2 separate regions of the Homo sapiens genome follow, and region 2 is linked to region 1. Evidence: fine-mapped expression QTL. Tissue or cell type: whole blood. Region 1 holds a variant in brackets; the other region holds the start of a gene. All regions are shown on one strand. Distances are between the middles of the regions.

Region 1 (8,106 bases):
TAACAGAACAGGGTTCTGCTCACCATCCCCTCTCCACCCAATTTATGTCCATAATAGGCTACAGCTTCCGTTCATAGAAACATTTCTAGTTTTCTAAAGCTGCATTGTCCCCCACCCCCATCTCAACCGCAAAACTTAAATATCTTATTTTAAAAAGCTACAAAGCCATTAGTAGCCAGCCAATTCATAAACCAGACTTCTAGCCTTCTGATTAAAATCTTAATAAAATTCTGGTAGTTGGATGTTAATCTGGGTTAACAGCCTCAGCAAGAATAAACTGTTTAAACAGGAGTTAGCAAGAACCAATGCACTTATGGACTTGGTTACTATGAAAACCTTATCACCTTATGCATATGTTGTAGCTTATGTGGACTTGTGAGCTATTGAATGTGGCTAAGTTTACTTAGGTGTCCTTTCATGAATATTATCTTCTAGCTTCTTTAAAAAGCAAAAGCAAAACGCCTTTACCTATCAGATTCTCACCCAACCTCTCATGGCGATTCCTTCTCTTTAAAAATCAGACTATCTTCTTTTTTAAAAAAAATTATTTTTATTATTTTTTTCTCTTTCAAAAATTATTTTTATTAATTTAAAAAATCAGACTCTCTTCACTGATCTCAGAATAGACAGACTGAATAACACTGCACGGTTTTTGTGTGCTTCCTTGTTTTTTTTTTTTTTTTAATTTGAGACAGGGTCTCGCTCTGTCACCCAGGCTGGAGTGCAGTGGCACACACATGGCTCACTGCAGCCTCGACTTCCTGGGCCCAAGTGACGCTCCCACCTCAGCCTCCTGAGTAGCTGGGACTATAGGTGCACACCACCACACCGAGCTACCTTAAATTTTTTTTTTTTTTTTTTTTGATAGAGATGGAGTCTCACTATGTTGCCCAAGCTGGTCTCAAACTCCTGGGCTCAAGAGATCCTCCCACCTTGGTATCTCAAAGTGCCAGGATTACAGGTGTAAGCCACCATGCTCAGCCTATGTCCTTTCAAATAAGTTAAAAATATATACATACAATATACACACACACACCTCTACCTGTATATATCCTAATGATGATAAATGACTCCTATCCTATGTTCCCTATTTATGTCCATGAATCTGCAATTTGAGTAATACCTCAAAAAAAAAAATAGACCTTGTCTTCTGCCCTTCCTCCCATCTCATCAGATGATATCAACATTCACATAGAGAATAGTCAGAAGCCAGGAATTATCTTGAACTTCACATTCTCCCTTCTTAATTTTGTATCCCCCAAATTACCATTCTAGTCATTTACAACTCCTAAATATCTCTTGAATCCATCTATTTCTCCATTACCACTGTAGTCTAAGCCATCATCATCTATAAGATTCCTTTGATAGCATCTTTTTTATTTTGAGACAGAGTCTCACTCTGCCATCCAGGCTGGAATGTAGTGGTGCAATCTCGGCTCACTGCAACCTTGGCATCCTGAGTTCAAGCCTCTTCGGTTCAAGCGATTCTCATGCCTCAGCCTCCCGAGTAGCTGCAACTACCAGTGTGCAACACCACGTGTGGCTAATTTTTGTATTTTTAGTAGAGACAGGGTTTCACCATGATGGCCAAGCTGGTCTCGAACTTCCAGCCTCAAGCAATCTGCCTGCCTTGGCTTTCCAAAGTGCTGGGATTACAGGAATGAGACACCATGCCCAGACTCGATAACATCTTAATTGAAATCTTTGTGTCCTCTCTCGGCTCAGTCTGATCTACTCTCCACAAAGCAACCACAATGATTGCAAAAAAAAAAAAAAATTGTAAGAAAACAAATTCTGATAACATCACCTCCCTGCCTAAACCCTTCAATGGTCTCTCATTGCCTTCACAACCAGATCCAGAATCCTAACCATGGCTTAGAACTTAGAACCAGCTACTAGCTATTTCTTCAGCCACATTTGATGCCACTGCTCCTCCTCTCCCTCTCCTTGCTTTAGCCATCTCCAGTGCTCTTGGTTTTTCAGACACTCCATGCTCTTTCTCAACACGAAGTGCTATTTTTTTTTTCTTTTTCTTTTTTTTTTTTTTCGAAATGGAGTCTTGCGCTGTCGCCCAGGCTAGAGTGCAGTGGCACGATCTTGGCTTACTGCAACCTCCGCCTCCCGGGTTCGAGCAATTCTCCTGCTTTGGCCACCCAAGTAGCTGGGATTGCAGGCGTGCACCACCACACCTAAGTTTTGTGTTTTTAGTAGAGACAAGGTTTCACTATGTTGGCCAGGCTCGAACTCCTGATCTCAAATGATCTCCCTGCCTCAGCCTCGTGCCTGTAATCACTCTGGGATTACAGGCGTGAGCCACCACGCCCGGCGGTCAACATGGAGTGCTTTAATCATGACACGTGGGAGATTTTTTTATCCTCATATTCACCTTGGTAAATCCTACTCATATTTGAACTCTTAATATAAGCACTACTTCCTAAGGGAAGTCCTTAAGATTACCCATAGAAGGTACTTTATTAAATATTTGTTGGATAAATGAATGTCTTATTCACAGTGTGCCTCAGCCCCTAGCAAAATGCCTGCCACATAATACATAATATAAATTTGCTGAATTTAGCGTATTGGATACTGATGAACACACAAAGTTGAAAAATATTAATTCTCTTACAGACAATTTAAAATGGATTTTAAATTGCTACAAAATGTATTTATAGGAAGCAAGAGTGCTCCTACCTACAGGAGAAATATTAAGCACCCTGTCAATAAGTAGATGTTTGGATTTCATAAATTATCCCCACACATATAAAAATTTCTTCCTTATTATTCATCATGGATAACTGGTCCTAACAGGACTTACAAGGTCTCTCAAGTCACTTCCTGCTTGCTTAGATTTAAATCACAAAGCTTAAGATTTTTACGAGAGGCAAATACAGGTAACATTAGATTGGCTCCCAAAAGCATATCCTGAAATGTGTCTTGCAAAAACAGGCAACAAGAGAATATATGAAGCTGGCAAAGCTTACTCTTTTCAGCAATTAAACTTACTTTATAATCTAGTTTATCACTGAAATTATACATTCTCTAGATTCTTCACACCTATAGAGCCAACTACTCAGAGGTGTGAACTAGCAAAAAAAATTATTTGGAGTAAGGCTTGTTTCCTATACAGCATTTATTGTGCAGACTATACAGTTTTCCCTGTAACAGTGTTTCATATTCAATATTCATTTACAGGGCATAAATTAACTGTTAACATTACAGCAAATATCTAACAATCCATTAGTACTACAATAACATGTACATTTACCTCATTTCAGTCTAACCACAAAATATGTCAATTTTTTGAAAACACAGGGAGAAGTTTTCTGAATATTGTGGCATTAATCTAGTTCTAACAAAATATGCACTTTATGCTGTGTGCGCATATATACATACAGTTCAGCCATCAAAATTACAGATAGGGTTTGGCATATTGTGGAAAAACTGGGTAAAGCTGACAAAATAAAATAGGCAAGTTGGAGCCTAAAAACAAAACAAAAAACTTCTCTTTGTTTACAGTTGATCCTTGGTATAATCTAAAGACTTCCCCTCAAGCCATTAGTCCTTAGTGTCATTCATGAATTACTCCAATGGCACAGAAGTGGCATGAACGTAACTGCTGGAGAGGCTGGAGGCTGCAATATTTTACCCCAGACCTAAGGCTTTAAATGTCCCATAAAGACTTCAATGACAACAGAATAGAAAAGTAGAAAAGTATTTGGGAATAAATTAGCAAAAACAGCAGGTTAGCACCCCCCTTTTTAGATCACTGATTATTTCTATAATTGTATCCACAGTCCTAATGCTATTAGCCTTTCATTTTACCATGCAGATGTGACAGGAGAAAAGACAAAAAAATAATTCCCACTGCACCTCTCTTTTGAGGGAGAGGATGGTGGTGGGACTGGGAAAAGCCTAGGTGGTGGGACTGGGTAGAGCGGTGGTGGGACTGCTCTTGCCCACCTATGTATGCTCTTACAATCTGGTCCTATTCGTTCTTGCTTCCCTCTATTCACAAAGGCAGCTCCTGACTTAAGGGGCTATTCCTACCCCTAAATACTCCCTCAATACTCCCTGAGTATTTCTACTCAGTTCTCAGCCTCATCATCTCCTACCAGGGTCACACACCACCAATCTTCAGGTCTCCTTCATTTAAGCTCTGCTACTAAGCTGACCACTGCATCTGTTTCAGTAAATTCAACTTAGAGTGGTGATATTAACTTTTGAGACACGTTTTCCCTTAAGATAAAACTTGCAAATGTTCAG[C/A]TTAAATTCAAGAAATACAATATGTTATATTTTAAGAATGTCAGCTGGGCACAGTGGTGCACGCCTATAGTCCCAGGGTATTAGTCCGTTCTCATGCTGCTATGAAGAAATACCCAAGACTGGGTAACTTATAAAGAAAAGAGGTTTAATTGACTCACAGTTTCACATGGATGGGAAGGCCTCAGGAAACTTAGAATCATGGCAGAAGGGGAAGCAAACATGTCCTTCTACACAAGGTGGCAGGAGAGAAGTGCCAAGCAAACAGGGAAAAGTTCCTTATAAAACCATCAGATCTCATGGGAACTCACTCACTTTCACGAGAACGGCATGGGGGTAACCGCCCGCATGATACAATTACCTCCCACCAGCATGATGTGGGGATTATGGGAACTACAATTCAAGATGAGATTTGGGTGGGGACACAGCCAAACCATATCACCTGGCTACTAGAAAGGCTGAGGTAGGAGGATTGCTTGAGCCCAGGAGTTCCAGGCCAGCCTAGGTAACATCTCAAAACTCCATCTCTAGAAGGGGAAAAAGAAGCAAAGAATGAATTGCCTTCTTGGCCAGGCACGGTGACTCACGCTTGTAATCCCAGCACTTTGGAAGGCCGAGGTGGGTGGATCAACTGAGGTCAGGAGTTTAAGACCAGCCTGGGCAACACGGTGAAACCCTATCTCTACTAAAAATACAAAAATCAGCCAGGCGTGGTGACGTGCACCTGTGATCCCAGCTACTCAGGAGGCTGACGCATGATAATTGCTTGAACCTGGGATGCAGAAGTTGCAGAAAGCCAAGATTGCACCACTGTGCTACAGTCTGGGAGACAGAGAGAGACTCTGTCTCCCCCAAAAAAAAAAAAAAAAAAAAAAATTAATTGCCTACTCAAAAGTGGTGAATGAAGACGGGGTGGGTGTGAGGGGGAGGGGGTGGGGGTGGGGGTGGGGGAGCGAGGAGAGTCAATCTCTTTCCCAAAGAGTAAAAGACCAAGTAGTGGTTCAAACTTCTAAGATATATTTTTTTGAAGGATGAAATGATGGGCTTACTAACACTTTCTTCTTACATCTATTAAAGCATATCAGGGGGATGTTCAGAGAAGATGACAATGATCTTCCCAAGATTAGGGCTAACTGACTAATTTTTATCCAGTGAATCCAAGGTATCAGAATACATGATGTTTATATAATTCACAATTCCTAAAAGGTATCTATCTCCATATTAAGGCTATCAACTACTGATACAAAAGCTTTCTCCACTAGTGAGAAAAGCTCATGCACAACTAACCTACATATCCTCTGTCCCAGTAGGGTGTGTGTAACCAGACTGCCTGAGTTCAAATCCTGGCTCTATTTCTTAATTGCTGTGTAACCTTGGGCAAGTTACTTAACTTCTCTTGCTCTAGTTTTCTCCCTACAAATGAGAATAATAATACTATCTACCTAATAAAGTTATTTTGCAGATCAGATAATACATGTGGAAGTCTTAGAACGGTGCCTGACATATAGTAAATCTTGGATTAACCATGATTGCTATTCCTCTTCCGACTTCTTAAAAAGTTGCTAGCTTGAGACTAATGCAATGAAAATAATTTCTCTGGTATGAATTATAGCGAAGTCTTTGGCTTCATTAACAATGTACACTAACAAGCCAATCCTGGGGATACAAATACGAAAGTTTTCAGGGACCAGGTGGGTATCATGAATGTGTGAAGTTAGGTGGCCTAACACAACAGGGAGTGCTAGTCATTGTGGCTAACTGGCAAGTGTAAGTCTCACCTAAAGGCATGTGATTTCAAATGTAAAAAAAATAAAAACCTCCAAATACAAGACGTCTGTGCCTTGAAAGCCAAAAATGTAAGACCCTTGATTTAAACAGAGACAAATGAACTTATTATATAAAAGTTTTGAAAACTGCATTATTGATTCTGCATATCAGTAAAGAAATGATTGATCAGATATATGTGAAATAAATGCAAGGAACAAACAGGAAAGTTTAGAGGTATAATACACAAAGAATCAGACAGACCTGTTTGAATCCTGCCTAAGCTACTTAGAAACTGCATGACCATAAGAAAGTTACTTACTTTTATTTCAGTTTCCTCAACTGCAAAAACGTTAAAACCTGTGTAGGATTGTTGTGAGGATGGCAGATAATGCAGCTGCCCCTCATAAAACAGGCATTGAATTTTTTTTTTTTTGAGACGGAGTCTCACTCTGTCACCCAGGCTGGAGTGCAGTGGCGCGATCTCGGCTCACTGCAAGCCCCACCTCCTGGGTTCACGCCATTCTCCTGCCTCAGCCTCCCGAGTAGCTCGGACTATAGGTGCCTGCCACCACACCTGGCTAATTTTTTTGTATTTTTAGTAGAGACGGGGTTTCACCATGTTAGCCAGGATGGTCTCGATCTCCTGACCTCGTGATCTGCCCGGCTCGGCCTCCCAAAGTGCTGGGATTACAGATGTGAGCCACCGCGCCCGGCCTGAATATATTTTTTAATGACCAATAAAAAAATGTTGGGGCCGGGCATGGTGGCTCATGCCTGTAATCCTAGCACTTTGAGGGGCGGAGGTGGGCAGATAGCTTGAGCTCAGGAGTTCAAGACCATCCTGGACATGGCGAAACCCTGTATCTACATAAAATACAAAAATTGGCCAGGCATAATGGTGCGCGCCTGTAGTCCCAGCTACTCAGGAGGCTGAGGTAGGAGGATCACCTGAGCCCAGGGAGGGTGAGGCTGCAATGAGCCATGACTGTACCACTGCACTCCAGCCTGGACAACAGAGTGAGACCCTGTCGCAAAAATAAATAAATAAACAAACACACACAAAAAGTAAAAAAAAAAAAAACAAAAAAAACCCAAAAACCTAGGTCTGGAACAGATCTTCTTAACCTACGGTTCTTATTATCAGTCAGCTTAGGCTAATTTACCTGCAAAAACGAATGACCCTATAATCTACAGGCTTTATAACAATGGTTTATTTGTTTTGATCACATTATAGGTCTACTGAGGGTAGACAGCAGCTCTGCTCCACGTATCTTCATTCCAGGAACCCAGAATGAAGGAGTGGCCCTTAATGGAACACTGCTGGTATCACTGCAAAGGGAAAAGAGAAATGGAACCACCTAACAGCTCTTAAAGTTTCTGGTCATAAAAGCCAAATAAATTTTTCATTAACATTTTATTGGCTAAAAGAAGTCACGTAGCTGAGCCTGATGATCAGGACAGGGAAGTATGAGCCTCACACTGGGAGGGGCACCAAATATGTGGGGACAATAATCTGGGATTCATAGTGTGTGTGCACAGAAAACTTTTGCATGTAATTTTGAGTAATCTTATTAAACTATATGCAATATTGTATATGCATATAGGCACATTTTCCCTCTCAGATAAAGGAATAAAGATACTATATTCTGCAAAGCATCACAGATCACAGACCAAAAGGGCCAAAGAAAAAGTCAGATTGGGTTTGAAAGAAGTAATATTTCTTTTCTTTTTTTTTTTTTTGAGACAGAGTCTCCCTCTGTTGCCCAGGCTGGAGTGCAGTGGCGTGATCTTGGCTCACTGCAACCTCCGCCGCCTGTGTTCAAGTGATTCTCCTGCCTCAGCCTCCTGAGTAGCTGGGATTACAAGTGTGTGCCACCACTCAGCTAATTTTCGTATTTTTAGTAGAAACGGGGTTTCACCATGTTGGCCAGGCTGGTCTTGAACTCCTGACCTCAAGTGATCCGCATACCTCCCAAAATGCTGGGATTACAGGGGTGAACCACCGCACCTGGCCAGAAGTCGTATTTCAAACATATAGCCATTACTAATTATAATACTAGATCAGTACACTTTAGCTCT
Region 2 (8,106 bases), 590 kb before region 1:
GTCTCAAACTCCTGGCCTCAGGTGATCTTCCCATTTTGGCCTTCCAAAGCACTGGGATTACGGGGCATGAGCCACCACAATCAGGTCTATCTTATTATTTTTTATTTTTATTTATTTACTTATTTTAATTTTTTTTTTGAGACAGAGTTTTGCTCTTGTTGCCCAGGCTGGAGTCCAATGGCGAGATCTTGGCTCTACACAACCTCTGCCTCCCGGATTCAAGTGATTCTCCTGTCTCAGCCTCCTGAGTAGCTGGGATGATGGCATATGCCACCATGCCCGGCTAATTTTTGTATTTTCAGTAGAGACGGGTTTTCATCATATTGGTCAGGCTGATCTCAAACTCTTGACCTCAGGTGATCTACCCGCCTCGGCCTCCCAAAGTGCTAGGATTACAGGCATAAGCCACCGCGCCTGGCCTTACTTTTTTTTCTTTTTTTTTTTTTAAAGAACTATGACAGCTAGTTACATACTTAGTATTTCTCTCTCTCTCTCCAAATTGTGAGTTCCTTGAAAACTGTGTTATAGCCATAGTATCTAGGACAGAAGCTGGCATGAAATATACTGATTCTTAGTGGTTGGAAAATGGTCTGAGAAGGATTTGAAGTGTGCTGTTATAAGCAAGTGAGTCTGATATGAAATTGGGGTGATTGAGCCCGGGGGTTGAGGCTGCAGTGAGCCAAGATTGTACCACTGCACTCCACACTGGGCAACAGAGCAAGATGCTGTCTCAAAAATAAAAAATAAAAATAAATAAAAGTATTGAATCAGATATGACAAAAAATAAAAAAATAAAACTGGGGGGATTATCTAGGAATTAATGAGAAAATCATAGACTCAGCTTGATCTCATCCTTTGCCAGATGCGAAAACCAAAGCCTGGAGTAGTTGAGGGATTTGTTCAAAGTTATCTAGCTAGTTAATGGCCAGAATCAAGACTAGAATCTCAAAACTCCCATCAAACTAGTCTAGAGGCCAATCCACTATATTGATCTGCCTTTCAGATCTCAGTGATTTGGTATCTATCTCCACTATCCCACTGAAGTTTGCTATTGTTGGTTACCAATCACTTTTCTGTTGCTAAATCCAGTGAATGCTTTCCAGTTCTTGATATACTTGGCCTTTTTGTGGTCTCTGACTCTGTTGACCCCTCTCCATCTTGCTTGCTTGGCTTCAGAGGCATTAGGCTCACCTAGTTCTCCTTTTCTCTCTCTGGCCATTCTTCCTCAGACTTCTTTTTGGGCTTCTGATCATCTGCACCTCCTTTTAAAGTTAGTGCTCTCCAGGGGCCCTATCCTTGCCTCTCCTTATTATGTCTTCTGTATTTTCTCCCTGATTGATCTCATCCATGCCTCGGGCTTAAATTACCAATTATTAATTTATTTCTTCCAAATCTATTTTAACTCAACCTCTTTCCTCATTCATAGACCTGTACAGTTTGAGTGTTTATTGGACATTTTTCTCTAGATGTGGAGGTTCCATCAGGTCACAGTCATATTGCTATAGTCTCTGAGGGGACCTACTGAATTGTACCCTTCTTTTCCAGGTAATGGAGAAAGCTGCAGGAAACCAACTATTATCTTTATTACTGACTGTATCAGTTTCCTATTGCTGTTGTAACAAGTTAGCACAAACTTGGTACCTTAAAACATACAAGTTTCTTATCTCGCAGTTCTAGAAGTCAGAAGTCCTAAAATCAAGGTGTTGGCAGGGCTGTGTTCTTAGGGTGCTAGAGAAGAATCCATTTCCTTGCCTTCTCCCGCATCTACAATTTGCTTGCGTTTCTTGGGTCCATCTTCAAAGCCAACAGTATAGCATCTTCAAATCTCTGTCTGACCTCTGCTTCCATCATCACATCTCCTTCTCTGACTCTGACCCTCCTGCCTCCAGCCCAGTCAGACAATCCAGGATAATCTCCCTAGATACATCATTTAATCATATCTGCAAAGTCCCTTTTGCCACATAATATAACATATTCATGGGTTCTGAGTATTAGGGTGTGGTCATCCTTTTTTTTTTGGTTGGGGGGGATCATTATTCTGTGTAACACAGCTGACAAAGCTGGTATTAAATATTATCTGTGGACAGACAGCTTCCTAATGCCAAACTCTGGAATTAAATACATATACTCTCTTTGTAGCCCTGGACTAGGCACCCTTGTCCCTACCCACAGGCCCTGCTCCAGAAGAAACGGAAAAGAACACCAGGACAGTTCCCTGAAGATAGTTATCTTTTAAGAGAAAAAGAATGGGATAGATGCCACATGTCCAGTTTCTCCCATTTAAGTTCACCAATCAGGAAGTCACTCCTCTAGGCAAGAGTGAGTTGCAGACAGGTATAAGAGAAACCAGGAGAGTATTACACTAATGGATATCATTCCATATGGAAGAAAGACATTGTGAATGGAGAGTAAATGTTTCCCTAACAAACATATCCATATTTGAACTCATCATCATACTCCACATATCTGGTCATCCTCCTAAGAAATGTCACCATCACTATCTATAATAGTAACTTAGACACTTGTGGATAATCAAGACTCATGTAGCTTGCCATCTTGCTAAATGTTACCACTGTCTACCTCAGCACTCATGCTAGAAACCTGGCCTACTCATTTATCCGCACTCAGTGCTGTGAATTCTACCACCTTAATGGCGCTAACATCTATCCCCTCCTCTATTCCCACTGCCAATGCCTTGTTTAATGTTCTTATCACTTGTCTGGAGTACTGCAATGGCCTAAAAATGGGTCTCCCTGCCCCAAGCCTTGCTTTTCCTGACCATTTTCACTTTCTACTTTTACTCATGAAGCTTCCTTTGCCCGGAATTAAGTCCTTCCCAATTTGTCTCCTCCAACAACTGCAAGGGCGGTCCCCTAGCTTGCTCCAGCGTCGGGGATAACTGACTTTCCTACACCAGCTACAGTCAGACCTGCACCCGGATTTCTAGGACTCTTATCTATGTAGATAGATAAATACATTTTTTTGAGACAGTGTCTTGCTCTCACTGCAGAGGCTGGAGTGCAGCGGCGCGATCACGGTTCACTGCAATCTTGAACTCCCCAGGTTCAAGCGATCCTCCCACCTCAGCCCCCCGAGCATTTGTGACTACAGGCGCGCGCCAACATGCCCATTTAGTTTTTGTCTTTTTTGTAGAGACGGGGTTTCACTATGTTACCCAGGCTGGTGTCGAACTCCTGAGCTCAAGCGATCCGCCCACCTCGGCCTCCCAAAGTGCTGGGATTACAGGCTTGAGCCACCAAGTCAAATGGGCTTTATACTTACAAAGTACCTTTGCATACCTTATTTCATTTTCACCTCACAATTCTCCAGCGTAGGCTGGACCGGTATTATTATGCCCATTTACTGAGAGAGGAAACTGAGAGTCAAGGCTGGGCCAGTCACACCCTGCTGCGAAATTAACGAGCATCACTTAGCAGCCTCGACATTAACCGCGCTCGCGCTCTCATCCCTTTCTGGTCCTACTCCTTGGAGAACCTTCCTGCACCTCCAAGAACTTGCCGATCGGGTCTGCGGCGGTCTGGACGAGGTCACTCCACAGGCGCCCAGGACCTTCTCATCCGTAGTGACGTGCGCCGGTGACGCCATACAGTGACGTGTGGTGACTCGACTTACCCGGAGCCAGGTGCCGGCAGGGCAGCCACACCCTGGGGCCCCCTGTTCTGGAGGGGCAGAGGGTCGGGCCGATGCGAAAAAGCCGCGGAAGCTGCCTTAGGCGACTTTCTGGGCCTGCATCGCCGGACCCAGCAGCCCGCTGTCGATCGGTTGCTAAGTGACGCCAGCGCGCAGTGGCGCGTGCGCGGCCACGGCGGAGTGCGTGAAAGCGGACGCGCGCCGCAGCAGCCGGGGCGGCGGCGAGGACGGCGGCCACGGAAGCGGCCAAGGGGGCGGTGGCGCAGAGAGGGGTGCGGAGCGGGCGGAAGAGGCGTCTGTGTCGCAGCTTGGTCTCAGAGGAGCATCGCTGGGGTGAGTAGCCGGGTCCTTGCAGGGGAGGTGGGGCCTGGCCGCACCTGCGGCGCGGGGACGCGCGCCCCCGCCGTATCCGCGCGCACCGCCCCCCGCCCCTCCGCCGCTTTTTCCGGGGGCGGGGGAGGAGCTGGGACGGGGCCTGACGAGGGTCATTTCTTGGGCCCGGGTGCTCTGGGAGAGCGGTAGCCGTCCCGTTCGCAGTCCACGAAGGTGTAGTGGGAAGTAGACGTTTCGGGGATTCGGGGTGGCTCTACCAGCCTCCCAAAGAGAGGAGTTCGAATCAGGGGCAGCCCAGGTTCCCTAGCAGTCTCGTATCCTGTCTGAGACGACGTTGCCTGGGACTGAGGAGGCGAAACCCGGGACCCCGGGGTGGGGGTTTGGAAAGTTTGGGACTGCTGGGGCCCTCATCTCCCCTGCCCTGGCCAGCCTCTGAGTAGGAGCTGGTTGTTATGGAGAGAGTTGTGAATCAGTGCCTGCGTGCGGCATCAGACACACCCACGACCTTGGGAGGGCGACCTGTCAGTATAGATCCGGGGCAGCCAACCTGTTGCCTAGAGTTTCTAACTTCACATGTATGTGCATGTGTTTCCTTGGCGTTTTAGTACATTGTTGTTACAGATTTTGAGACCAAGGTGCTGATAGGCATCCTCATTTCTTACTTCCTCATAGACTTAGTTATCTTGCTATATTTCCCAGAACCGTGTTGTGCTTTTGTCATTAGTAGATCCAAGGAAGTATGGAAGCATGTTTTGTTTGTTTTTCCTAAAGGCAGTACAGGCTGCTATTTTCTGGGCAGAAAATACGGATTCTGTTCACTGTGTGGGCGGAAAGTGTTGATGATGGGAGAACCCAGCATGTAAAGGTGTAGCTCATCCTCAGCCCTGTGCTGTCTTCTCAGTGCTCTGGACTCTATCATGGGTAGATGTATAGGGGTTGTGGTTACCATACTTGGGAGCGAGGAATATTGGAGACAGGGAAGAAGCCAGTCTTTTCTTTCTGTTGATTAAGGCAATTTGTAGAACCAGTGAAAAGATAGGCTGTACTGAAATCTAATGTTTTGTGTAAGAGGATAGAGGAAAATAAGTTCAAGGTTCTCATTTAGGTCTAAAATTCTATGATTCTGTTTCATAACTGAGAATCTGTAAAGTATGTTACCTCTTGGAACCAGTAATAACCTTGCTTTGTAACACTTATTAGATTACTCGGAATTCAAAGTGTCTTCCTCCCTCCACTGTAATAGCTTTTAGGACAGGAGTCATCTGTGTTTTCCTCCTTGCCCTATGTCTAACACATAGGAAAAATGTGCTTGCCACAGAGTAGGCATGCAATGGATATTTGTTATATAGCACACTATGCTCAAGTGGTGTATCTATGTATAGAAAGCATTGAGTTCAGTCCATCAAGTACTTAATACATGTGCCTCCCTCTGCCCAGTATCATGATAGGTGTGGGAGGAGGATTATGGAGTGAAAAATGACATAGAAGACCTGTCTTTTTTTTCCCTTTGAGAGCAGTAGTCTAGCTAGGAGATGTATAAAATAATTATAAAACCAAGTTAAGTAGCAGGTAACCAGTGCTGTTTGAGGACTATAAATGTGGTAGAAAATCAGAAAAGATAGGATGTGTAGGCTGAGTTAGGGAACTCTTTGAAAGAGGCAAGATTTGACTTGGTCTCTGAAAGAAGTTAAAATTTGTTAGGAAATAAACCAGGAGCTGAGAAAATAATAATGTGAATTTGGTTGTTGGAGGATATACCAAGACGACTTTTATGTCTGGTAACTGGAGCGGAACGTCTCTTATAGGGGAATACTGGAGAGAGATGGCTTAGCAGGTTGGGAAGGCAAAGTGTTAAGGATTAAGGCGGGCTTATCAGCATCCCACTGTTAACAAGATACAGCCTTCTTGTAAGGTGGGATAGAGGTTGTATTAATCAGAGTACAGTCTTTGACAAGAATAAGTGTTATCCTTACTTGAAAGTAAAGGATATTACGCTTGAACCAATATCAGGTTGTTAATATACTTTTGATTTCAATTACTAATTGGAATCGATGCCTCACTAATGTGCATGTATTTTAGGTAGTCAGTGGTGCATGTCTCATTATCTAAAATCTACCTGATGTACTTGGGCCATTGTATTGGAAATTTACTGAAATGATGTACCAATAGTCATCCAGTCACACTCAGTGACATAGTTTTGCTTGGGATTATCTCTCTGAGGTTTGTCTTTACTGCTGATCCTGTAAAATATACAAATGTTAGTTGGGAAAGGAGTCTTTCTGATGAACGATGCTTAAAAATACTGACCAAAGAGATTTCAGAATAATTAAAGACCCTGCTGCTGAATATTGAACCCTTGGTCTTTATTTATAACATCTTCTGTTATGTGAAAATTCTTTTGAGTGGTATGTAAACCTGAAGTTGAATTGCTAACCAAGATGTGTAAAGTTACAACTGCAAATGTTGCATTATTTAACAACTCAGCAGATACTTACTGGGTGCTGGCTATGGCGAGACACTTCGTTGGGTGCTGGGAAGACAAAGAAGTTAAGACACAGTATATGCTCAGCATACTAAGTGTTCATCAGAAGAGATAAACCACTAACCATTATGTGCTGTGACAAATTAATCACTTTTGGAATGAATAATGTGCTGGGGGAGTAGAGTGCTTTGGCTGGAGAAAAAACTGATAGGGAACATGTTGAGAAGAAGGGGATGGAGCTTAGCTCTGAGGGTTAAATAAAATTTCGCCACATGTAGAGGTGGAAGAGAGCATTCCAGGGGCCAGCATAAGCAAAGTTGCTGAATATTAAAATTAAATAGCGCTTTTGGAAATATCTTGAGTTGTTTCTTGTGGGCAAGAGAGGGGAGAGGGCTGAACTCATCTCAAGAACCCATTCCTGAGATAATGAACCCATTCCTGCTATAATGGCATTCATCCATTCATGAGGGCCTAATCACTTCTTATTGCATGGGGGAAGTGATGAGGCAGGAAGCTGTTTTTGGAGCCAAATTATGAGGGGGTCTTCCACTTCATCCTAAAAAGTCTAGACTCCTCCCATCCATTGGCAGTGGAGAGCCATAGAAGGTAGAATAATCAGAAAGTTGACAGTTCGTGTGCAGATTGCATTAGAGTAGAGAGGCAGGGAGACTAGAGTGTAGGTGAGAAATGTTGGACAATGGGAATGGATAGATTTTGGAGACATTTTTAGATGTTAAAATCTCTACATTTATGACCAGCTAGAGGTAAGGGAGAGTGAGAAGTCAAAGATAATATGTCTAGTTTGAGCAACTGTTTGCTTATGATGACATTAAGTTAGAAATCACAGGAAGAGGAACAGGTTTGAAGTGGAGAGAAGAAATAATGGCAGTGTTAATTCTGAGGTTTCTGTGGGGAGTTTAAAAAGAGAGATCCACTAAGTAACTGGAAATGCTACTTCAGAGTTTATGAGATGGTTAGGGACAATTGTAATATAGATGTCCGCTGAGGCTGTGGGAGTAGCAACCTTCTAGGAGGCATGTTAGTATAGTAGTTAACTTAGTGGACTTTGGAGTTAGGAAGATGGCAGGTCAAATCTCTGTTATGCTGTTTATTGGTTGGCTGACCTTTGGCAAGTTATTTAACTTCTCTAAGCCTAGGCTTCTTATCTGAATTAAAGAATTGTGGAGATTATACATGTGCACAGTGATTAACACAAAGGTACTATGTGCACAGTGATTAACACAATGCCTGTCTTATAGATGCTTAATATAATAAATGGCAGCTGTTGCTGTTATTGTTAGTAGTAGTTATAGATGTAGAGATAGTAGGAGAGGCCCCAATGCCAGAAAAATGGAGAGTGAGAACTGGAAAAGATGGTGAATGGAACTTTTGGACGTTTAAATCAGTATTTAAACTTGGATCAGTTCTTGTCTTTGTTTTGTGCTGCTATTTCATATTTTATGTTTCATAATGGCAGCACAAAACAAACTAAGACAAGAACTGATCTAAGTTTAATTTATAAAGAACAGTCTGGTTAATTTATAAAGAACAGAAATTTATTTCCTGATAGTTCTGGAGGCTAGGAAGTCCCAGATCAATGTGCCAGTATCTGGTGAGGGCCTTCTTGCTGTGTCATAACA

The links. PIP is the estimated chance that this variant, and not a neighbour inherited with it, causes the effect.
Region 2: BTBD9 starts here. The variant in region 1 is fine-mapped to the expression of BTBD9 in whole blood (TOPMed, PIP 0.99).

What each region holds. Positions count from the first base shown.
Region 1 is chr6:38,046,976-38,055,081 of GRCh38, reverse strand. The region is part of intron 2 of ZFAND3 (zinc finger AN1-type containing 3); the gene reads right to left. Among named protein-coding and RNA genes, the nearest start is that of ZFAND3, 230 kb to the right of the region's middle. The variant C/A (reference allele first, on the strand shown) is at 4,264.
Region 2 is chr6:38,635,678-38,643,783 of GRCh38, reverse strand. BTBD9 (BTB domain containing 9) reads left to right here and starts at 3,855. Exons shown (of 11, transcript NM_001099272.2): 1 at 3,855-3,984. It overlaps LOC105375044 (a long non-coding RNA gene), which reads right to left and starts at 3,389. Exons shown (of 3, transcript XR_926767.4): 1 at 3,300-3,389. RefSeq lists enhancers at 3,513-3,592, 3,393-3,893 and a silencer at 3,993-4,192.